Homo sapiens: one gene and its partner. The protein of the gene in region 1 interacts with the protein of each later gene in a biochemical or structural test. Each region holds a gene or a part of one and is shown on either strand. Other genes may lie near its edges.

What was found. Proteins that work in one complex are often made in the same cells at the same time.
Region 2: the proteins of LRP4 (region 1) and SOST form a complex in vitro, tested with the Homo sapiens proteins (one study listed by IntAct).

What each region holds. Positions count from the first base shown.
Region 1 is NC_000011.10:46,915,522-46,923,070, reverse strand, and holds the start of LRP4 (low-density lipoprotein receptor-related protein 4 precursor), read left to right. Parts: upstream 1-4,520; 5' UTR 4,521-4,691; coding exon 4,692-4,743; intron 4,744-7,549. UniProt on the Homo sapiens protein: Mediates SOST-dependent inhibition of bone formation. Functions as a specific facilitator of SOST-mediated inhibition of Wnt signaling.
Region 2 is NC_000017.11:43,753,206-43,755,797, reverse strand, and holds the end of SOST (sclerostin precursor), read left to right. Parts: intron 1-34; coding exon 35-456; 3' UTR 457-2,060; downstream 2,061-2,592. UniProt on the Homo sapiens protein: Negative regulator of bone growth that acts through inhibition of Wnt signaling and bone formation.

The sequences.
Region 1 (7,549 bases):
TCAGCTTAGGTGTCAGTGCCTCTGGCAGGCCTTCCTCGAACCCCCAAACCTAAGTCCAGTCTTTCCTTTCATAGAACCCTGTACTTTTCCCTCAAAGCCTCTAACATTTGTAACTTCAAATTCATTTGTGGGAGCATTTTTTAAATGCTTCTGCAAACTTGCAGCCCCCTTCAACCATCAGACTGTAAGTTCCAGGGACCCAATATATTTATTTGTTCATCATTGCCTCAGAGTGCCTGGCGCATAATATACCCTTTATAAGTAGTTACTGAGTAAGCGAATCCTGAAATTAAGCCTCTCTAAAGCAAATAGGTATAGGATTCTATTAGTCCCCTTAGCTGTGCCTTCTCTTCTAAAGTTTTAAGAACTGGCCGGGCGCAGTGGTTCACGCCTGTCATCCCAGCACTTTGGGAGGCCAAGGTGAGCGGATCACTGGAGACCAGCATGGACAACATAGTGAAACCCTGTCTCTACTAAAAATACAAAAAAAAATTAGCCAGGTGTGGTGGTACATGCCTGTAATCCCACCTACTGGAGAGGCTGAGGCACAAGAATTCCTTGAACCCAGGAGGCGGAGGTTGCAGTGAGCTGAGATCAGGCCAACCTGGGGCCCAGAGGCAGAGACTGCAGTGAACTGAGATCAGGCCAACCTGGGGCCCAGAGTGAGACTCCGTCTCAAAAAACAAAAAACAAAATAAAACAACAACAACAACAACAACAAAAACTTATCTCCATTCACATTGCCTTCAACAAGAAAGTGATTCTGGAAATAAGATAGAGTAATTCTTTGCAGTCTCATGTTTTAATCTTTTAAAGCAGTTTCTCAACCTTGGCACTATTAACATTTTGGGATGGATAATTCTTTGTTGTGGGGGATGCCCTGCTCACTGTAGAAAGTTAAGCACCATCTTTGAAAGTTAAGCACCATCTTTGGCCTCTATTCATTAGATGCCAGTAACATCAACTCCCCAAAATTGCCGGGTGCAGTGGTGCACACCTGTAGTTCTAACTACTTGGGAGGCTGAGGCAGGAGGATCACCTGAGGCCAAGAGTTCAAAGCAGCAGTGTGCTGTAGTTGTGCCTGTGAATAGTCACTGCACTCCAGCCTTGGTAACAGTGAGACCCTGTCTCTAAAAGAAAAAGCATGGTGGCTCACACCTGTAATCTCAGCACTTTGGAAGGCCGAGGTGGGCAGATCACCTGACATCAGGAGTTTGAGACCAGCCTCGTCAACATGGTGAAACCCCATCTCTACTAAAAATGCAAAAATTTGTCGGGCATGGTGGTGCATGCCTGTAATGCCAGCTACTCAGGAGGCCGAGGCAGAAGAATCGCTTGAACCCGGGAGGCAGAGGTTGCAGTAAGCCTACATTGCACCACTGCACTCCAGCCTGGGCAACAGAGTAAGACTACGTCTCAATAACATAAAACAAAATAAAATAAAATAAAAGGGAAGAAGAAAAGAAAGAGAGAAAGGGAGAAAGGGAGGGAAGGAGGAGGAAAGGAAGGAAGGAAGGAAGGAAGAAAGGAAGTCTTTAGATGTTGCCCCATGCCTGCCAATTCACCTGTGGTTGAGAACCACTGTGTTGAAGTGTGAAACTTCAGGCCTTATTCTCTTGTAGAAGAATTACATATAGAAATTCAGGTTGTTGAATGATTCCCGGGTTATAAGAGAATTCTACCAACCCAGTTGGATCAAAATAGTGCCCACCCCTATCTTGTTTCCGTAGCACTCCCTGCGTTTCCTTTGAAAAGACCATTAGTGATGGTCTAATTCAGGGAAATATTCTGATCTTGGGAAGAAAGAATGCTGGGCTGTTCTAGAAAGATGAAGGAAAGGGGTGGTGTTTCTGAGGAAACCAACGCCTCTGAGACCCCTCTGGAATTGGCAGTCCCCTACAACTTTTCTAGGGGCATGTCCCAGAGGACAGTGAAAGGGAGACAAACAGCCCATTCTGGCCTGCTTTTCAGGATCTCTCACTCCAAACAAGAAAGTCTGAGAGGCCTGGTAAAAATAAATATGGCTTAGTACTCCTGGCACAAGAGCAGTCTCTGACAGCCAAGACTTAACTCACCCTAGGGGGTGACCCAGACAGGGACTATGCACGAAGCTAGTTTCTTACCCATTGATATTCCCAGTGACTCACAGCAGCCAGGGATGACTCTGTGCACCAGAACTGTGCTGAACCGTGGAGAAGGACTTGGGATGCACATAGGAAACAGTCTCTCAAGCTGAGTCAGACAGGGACAGCCCGCCTCTCGTTTCTTCTCCAATTCCAGAAAAACAACACAAATCATGCCTCTGGAAAGGAACCTGTCCTTTGCATACAGAGTGGAAACTGTTTATAACTTCTTAATCCCCTGACATTGAAAGTATGGGGACTGCCTATCCTGGATTTCTTTGGGACAACTGTACTGGCTCTACCACAAGTCCCTAGTTTTCAGCTGGAAAAAAATATGGTCTCCAGAATCCCAAGGTCATTCCCAACAGATTTAAAAGCAAGTCTTCGGCCAGGCAGAGTGGCTCACGCCTATAATCCCAGCACTTTGGGAGGCCGAGGCGGGTGGATCACCTGAGGTCAGGAGTTCGAGACCAGCCTGACCAACATGGAGAAACTCCGTCTACGAAAAATACATTAGCCGGACGTGATGGCGCATGCCTGTAATCCCAGCTACCCTACTCGGGAGGCTGAGGCAGGAGAATCGCTTGAACCCGGGAGGCCGAGGTTGCAGTGAGCTGAGATGGCGCCATTGCACTCCAGCCTGGGCAACAAGAGTGAAACTCCGTCTCAAAAAAGAAAAAAAAAGAGCAAGTCTTCATAAGCAACATATATGAAACCCTGAGACCAACCAAACCTGCATTAGGAAATGAGAGGTGGGAAGGAGGATGCTGGGGAATCAGCCTCTACTTTTGACGTTTTTTCCTCCTTGGATTTTAGGCTGTGGTAACTGATCGAGGCCAGAAATGTTGACAGTCTTGCCTAGCCCCAAGATCATGTAAGCCTGACCTGACGCTACTGCCGCCTTCAGTCAGCAAGAAGAACTACACACCCAGAAAATGCTTCAGTAATAGTTACCATGGTGATGCTAGTTCAACCACATTGCATCTGGATAAAAATTTCAGGCAAAACGATATAGAAAACTACTGCCTAACAAGGAGTTAACACCTTACATCTTTTATGTTGTTGTTGTTGCTGTCGCAAAGTATGGTTCATGTTAGCTTTGGTAAAAGATGGTAATTTGAAGTGAAAGTACTGAAAAAAACAAGCAAGGATGAAATGTCAATGTATCCATTTAGAGAAATCTAATAACCACTTTGCACTATGCCAAATTACTTTCCCCTCAGCTAACAGGGGGCATTTGGGTCTTCCTGACTCTATTTACTGGTGAGGAAAGTGAGTTAATGAAATCCATAGATGATCCAAGCCCAAGAAATGCTGGCATATCAGCTGGGAGGGAAAAAAGCGATATACTGGGCCATCAGAAAGTTGGGCATTTGGGCAAAAGGAACAAAACAAGATTCAACCTGGAAAAATGGAAGGTGGTGAAATTAATCCGTATTATTAATATGCATTAGGGAGAGTAGACCACAAAAGGAAGGAAGACTAGAGACAAGTTTATGATTTTATGCAGTAAATCAAAAGTTAAATCTGAGGGAAGGACCTACAGACTGGGGCTGGAAGGAGGCTGAGGGCTTTGTGGGAGTGCAGCTGCCCATGAGGACTCCTTTCCTGACCCCCTCCCTTCCTTGTCAGGATCAGAAAGTCAAAGAAGGTGAAGAGGCTAACAACAGTGATTTACAAAGACAGCAAGGAGGAACTAAGTCTGTATGGGCCGAATCTGGGCCTCTGAGCTGGAGCAACAGGACCCAGACAACCATCTCAGGAAATGAGTGAATGAAAAGGGGCGGGGGGGTCGGTGAATTATTTAGCCCTAGAACAACGCTGCCTAGACCGGGGGAGGCCAGGGAGAAGAAAATCTCCGAAAAGGAATTTTGACAGTGAGAACGCCAGTTAAGATACAGCACTCCAGGCCCCCTGATGTCCCTTGTTTGATGTCAATAAAGACCCAAGAGGATTATGCATCCACAAGCCTTGCGTATTCGCAGACATCAAAAAAGTCTGGACTTGGGGCCGGTAGGCGGGGGCAGGGTCACGTCCAGGCGACTTGGGTCAGCTCAGGTGCTCGTCTGAAGCATAGAGCTGGAGTGAGCGGGGGCGAGACTTGCTGCTAGGATAATTTTTTTTTTTTAAGTTAGGGAAATTTAAGCAGTAGTAATAGCGACAGGGAGGGGGCTCTCTCTCGGGCCAGGAATGTGGGGGCGGCCTGAGGAGGAGCGGGGCCCCGCGCAGGAGGCGCCGGCGGGTGGGGTCGGGGGACCAGGGAGCCGGGGCCGAGGGCGGGAAGGGGCCGGGCCGGCGCTGGGGGCGGGCCCAGGCGCGGTGGCGGTGGCCGGGGCTGCGGCGCGGGGGGCGGGGCGGTCGGGCCCGGGACACCCCCTCCCGGTCCCCTGGCGGGGCAGCGTCGGCTCTGGCAGCACTGGAGGCGGCGGCGGCCCGAGGGCGACTTGCGGGGCGCGCAGGCCGCCGTGCACCCGGGACGCTTCCCCCTCGGGGACCCTCCGCGGGCTTCTCCGCCGCGCCGTCCGGCGGGAGCCGGCGGGACCCCGGGCGAGCGGCGCGGGCGGCACCATGAGGCGGCAGTGGGGCGCGCTGCTGCTTGGCGCCCTGCTCTGCGCACACGGTAAGCGGCGCCCGCCGGGAAAGTTTGTCCCTGGGTCCGGCCGCTGCAGGACTCGCCTCCCGGGACCTGGACGGCGCGGGCCGGGGCCTGAGACCCCTCGCCCTCGCTCCTAGCCGTGGCCCTGGGGCTGCGTGCAGGGGAGAGGACCCGGAGCGGCCCCGGCTCCAGCAGTCCGAGCGGGGGCATCAGCGGAGGCGCTTCCGCGGGTTCGGGTCTGGGCCGGGGCGCGGGTCTGGGCCGGGGCGCGGGTAAGGTCCGGGGCGTTCGTTCGCTCGCCCTCCCTCGCTGCTCTTTCAAGAGCGGGGGCTGCTTCCCTTTCAGGTTAGGTCGGGGGCTCTGTGTCCTTGGTGCGAATGAATGCGTGCGAAGAAAGGGAGGCGGGTGAGGAGGGTCGCTAAACCCATAAATTGTAAATAGCCCTCCTTCCTGGGGCTGGGGGCTCGGGCGGGTTGCGGAGAGAGGCCCCGGTAGAATCTGGTACTTGGGCACCGGGATTCCTCTACTCGGAGAACGATTCCCGGACTCCAGGTCTTGCTCCCACCAAGGGGCTCTGGGGCACTGTTTGCGGGCAGCATCTCCCCTCGGCGGTGTTTCGGGGTCCCTCTCTTGGCTGCGGCCAGTCAGCTTCCAGCCCTGGATCGTCCTAAAGGGAGGTGGTTGGAAAGGGGGCTGAGGAGGAATATAGGGAAGAAACTGCTGGAAGGCTCCCGCAGATCTGCCCTGGCTGGGGTAGGGGGGCAGGGGGCCGGTAACCCTGAACCCCAGAAGGCAGCCGCCGGGCCCTCGCGGCAGGGTCCCAGCCCTCGGGGGAGCTGGACGGCTGCAGCAGGACTCCTTGGTGCCCGTACCCCCTGTTGTGTGGGACTAGGGCTCCGATGGAATCTGCTTCTCCGCGGGCTCTTAACGACCCTGGGTGCACCCCGTGATTGAGCAGCTTTCCCTAGTTTGTGCCCAGAGATCAAAGAACTTTGATCTTTGAACCCCAGCCCTATTCACCCATCGCTATTCATCGTGGCGGGAGTTCCGAGTCTCCCCATTTGCCTCGCAGCCCCGATGAAGGGAGCTGGGGCTCAGAATGGAGGGGTCTGGAGACCCTGCCTGGTCTTTTACCGGTTCTTTCTTTCACGTAGGACAGCTCGTGTGGAAAAAGTCAGTGCAGATTTCCGAACTTGCCTGGCAGGGCGTGGAGATGTCTAGGCACTCGTTTTAAAGATTGGTTTACCTCCCAAATCCAAAACAGAGTTTTCATGTCTCTTATTTAAACTACCTGTGGGTTTTCAGGGGCTTTTTTCCGCGTCCTCTCTAGCGCGGACTGAGCTCTTTCTCTCCGAAGAGCGGTAGCTTGGCCGGCCCACGTTCCGCTCCGCTCTGCGCTCTCCCCTCCCCGGCTCTCTCCTGGAAGGTTATTTGTAGCCTCTTTGGCGTGTTGGGACAGCGGCCCTACTGGGGTAGGAATGTAGCTGTTCTTCCCACCACATGGGCCCCTTAAAGGGACAGCTTTGCTTTTTGGGGGGTTTCCCCCTTCGGGTTGCAAGGAAAGGGGATGGAACTTTCCTCTCAGCCCCCTGGAGGAAGTTTTGAAAAAGATCAAGGGAAATGGCAAGGCACTGGGAAAAAAAAAAAAAATTAGGGTTAAAACGGATACCAACAAAGCCAGAGAGGAGATTGTCGCCTTCTGCCCTAGGGAAGGGGGAGCTGGAAGGTTCCGGGCTGAGACTGGCCAAGAAGATTTTACTGCTCCAGAGCTGTCAACGCTGCAAATATTACATGTGCATAGAGGATGGGGGTGAGAATGGGGGGAGAGAATTGCGTATGTCTAATGTTTCACAGAAAAAGAATGGGAGGATTCGCGGTAACGCTTTTAGGTTTCTTTCTCTTTTTTTTCTTGGAGAGGGTGTCTCACTCTGTTGCCCAGGCTGGAATGCAGTGGGGCAATCATAGCTCACTACAGCCTCGACCTCCCAAGCTCAAGTGATCTTGTCATCTCAGCCTCCTGAGTAACTGGGACTACAGGCATGCACCACCATACCCTACAAATTTTTGTTTTTTTTTCTAGAGATGGGGTTTCACCATGTTGCCAAGGCTAGTCTCCAACTCCTGGGCTCAAGTGATCCACCTGCCTCGGCCTCCCAAAGTGCTGGTATTACAGGTGTGAGCCACTGTGTCCGGCCCAGGTTTCTTTTTAAGGAAAAAAGTTTAATAGAAACGTCTAAGCATGGGAAGCTTTCTGTGCACATGTTTGTAAGGGTAGGCAGTGGGGTGAAGGTATACACATCACCTGGCCTGATACTGAGCCATCCTTGGAGGTCTGGGGGGTCAGATTCACAGTTCACCAGTAAGATTGAGCAGTTTCAGAGCCTGGAACCAGCACAACCAAAAATACCACCAAAACATCTTTTGGACTGACACTCAATTCCAGGGGCTCAGGGAGACAGCAGTTGTGATAAATGTAGTAGTAGATCCATTAGGCAGACCTGACCTCAGCAAGGCATGAATTAAAGACACTAAAGTTTAAGGTGATTTTGGGAGGCTGAGACTAGCGGATCACTTCAGGTCAGGAGTTCAAGACCAGCCTGGCCAACATGGCAAAACCCCATCTCTACTAAAAATACAAAAATTAGCCAGGCACAGTGGCACATGCCTGTAGTCCCAGCTACTCGAATGGATGAGGCAGGAGAATTGCTTGAACCTGGGAGGCAGAAGTTGCAATGAGCCAAGATCACTCCCCTGCACTCTAGCCGGGGCGACAGAGTGAGACTCTATCTTAATAAATAAATAAAGTTTAAGGTGCTTATTTGGATGCTGC
Region 2 (2,592 bases), on another chromosome or scaffold:
GGGCGGCCACCCTCACGCGCGCCTCTCTCCACAGACGTGTCCGAGTACAGCTGCCGCGAGCTGCACTTCACCCGCTACGTGACCGATGGGCCGTGCCGCAGCGCCAAGCCGGTCACCGAGCTGGTGTGCTCCGGCCAGTGCGGCCCGGCGCGCCTGCTGCCCAACGCCATCGGCCGCGGCAAGTGGTGGCGACCTAGTGGGCCCGACTTCCGCTGCATCCCCGACCGCTACCGCGCGCAGCGCGTGCAGCTGCTGTGTCCCGGTGGTGAGGCGCCGCGCGCGCGCAAGGTGCGCCTGGTGGCCTCGTGCAAGTGCAAGCGCCTCACCCGCTTCCACAACCAGTCGGAGCTCAAGGACTTCGGGACCGAGGCCGCTCGGCCGCAGAAGGGCCGGAAGCCGCGGCCCCGCGCCCGGAGCGCCAAAGCCAACCAGGCCGAGCTGGAGAACGCCTACTAGAGCCCGCCCGCGCCCCTCCCCACCGGCGGGCGCCCCGGCCCTGAACCCGCGCCCCACATTTCTGTCCTCTGCGCGTGGTTTGATTGTTTATATTTCATTGTAAATGCCTGCAACCCAGGGCAGGGGGCTGAGACCTTCCAGGCCCTGAGGAATCCCGGGCGCCGGCAAGGCCCCCCTCAGCCCGCCAGCTGAGGGGTCCCACGGGGCAGGGGAGGGAATTGAGAGTCACAGACACTGAGCCACGCAGCCCCGCCTCTGGGGCCGCCTACCTTTGCTGGTCCCACTTCAGAGGAGGCAGAAATGGAAGCATTTTCACCGCCCTGGGGTTTTAAGGGAGCGGTGTGGGAGTGGGAAAGTCCAGGGACTGGTTAAGAAAGTTGGATAAGATTCCCCCTTGCACCTCGCTGCCCATCAGAAAGCCTGAGGCGTGCCCAGAGCACAAGACTGGGGGCAACTGTAGATGTGGTTTCTAGTCCTGGCTCTGCCACTAACTTGCTGTGTAACCTTGAACTACACAATTCTCCTTCGGGACCTCAATTTCCACTTTGTAAAATGAGGGTGGAGGTGGGAATAGGATCTCGAGGAGACTATTGGCATATGATTCCAAGGACTCCAGTGCCTTTTGAATGGGCAGAGGTGAGAGAGAGAGAGAGAAAGAGAGAGAATGAATGCAGTTGCATTGATTCAGTGCCAAGGTCACTTCCAGAATTCAGAGTTGTGATGCTCTCTTCTGACAGCCAAAGATGAAAAACAAACAGAAAAAAAAAAGTAAAGAGTCTATTTATGGCTGACATATTTACGGCTGACAAACTCCTGGAAGAAGCTATGCTGCTTCCCAGCCTGGCTTCCCCGGATGTTTGGCTACCTCCACCCCTCCATCTCAAAGAAATAACATCATCCATTGGGGTAGAAAAGGAGAGGGTCCGAGGGTGGTGGGAGGGATAGAAATCACATCCGCCCCAACTTCCCAAAGAGCAGCATCCCTCCCCCGACCCATAGCCATGTTTTAAAGTCACCTTCCGAAGAGAAGTGAAAGGTTCAAGGACACTGGCCTTGCAGGCCCGAGGGAGCAGCCATCACAAACTCACAGACCAGCACATCCCTTTTGAGACACCGCCTTCTGCCCACCACTCACGGACACATTTCTGCCTAGAAAACAGCTTCTTACTGCTCTTACATGTGATGGCATATCTTACACTAAAAGAATATTATTGGGGGAAAAACTACAAGTGCTGTACATATGCTGAGAAACTGCAGAGCATAATACTGCCACCCAAAAATCTTTTTGAAAATCATTTCCAGACAACCTCTTACTTTCTGTGTAGTTTTTAATTGTTAAAAAAAAAAAGTTTTAAACAGAAGCACATGACATATGAAAGCCTGCAGGACTGGTCGTTTTTTTGGCAATTCTTCCACGTGGGACTTGTCCACAAGAATGAAAGTAGTGGTTTTTAAAGAGTTAAGTTACATATTTATTTTCTCACTTAAGTTATTTATGCAAAAGTTTTTCTTGTAGAGAATGACAATGTTAATATTGCTTTATGAATTAACAGTCTGTTCTTCCAGAGTCCAGAGACATTGTTAATAAAGACAATGAATCATGACCGAAAGGATGTGGTCTCATTTTGTCAACCACACATGACGTCATTTCTGTCAAAGTTGACACCCTTCTCTTGGTCACTAGAGCTCCAACCTTGGACACACCTTTGACTGCTCTCTGGTGGCCCTTGTGGCAATTATGTCTTCCTTTGAAAAGTCATGTTTATCCCTTCCTTTCCAAACCCAGACCGCATTTCTTCACCCAGGGCATGGTAATAACCTCAGCCTTGTATCCTTTTAGCAGCCTCCCCTCCATGCTGGCTTCCAAAATGCTGTTCTCATTGTATCACTCCCCTGCTCAAAAGCCTTCCATAGCTCCCCCTTGCCCAGGATCAAGTGCAGTTTCCCTATCTGACATGGGAGGCCTTCTCTGCTTGACTCCCACCTCCCACTCCACCAAGCTTCCTACTGACTCCAAATGGTCATGCAGATCCCTGCTTCCTTAGTTTGCCATCCACACTTAGCACCCCCAATAACTAATCCTCTTTCTTTAGGATTCACATTACTTGTCATCTCTTCCCCTAACCTTCCAGAGAT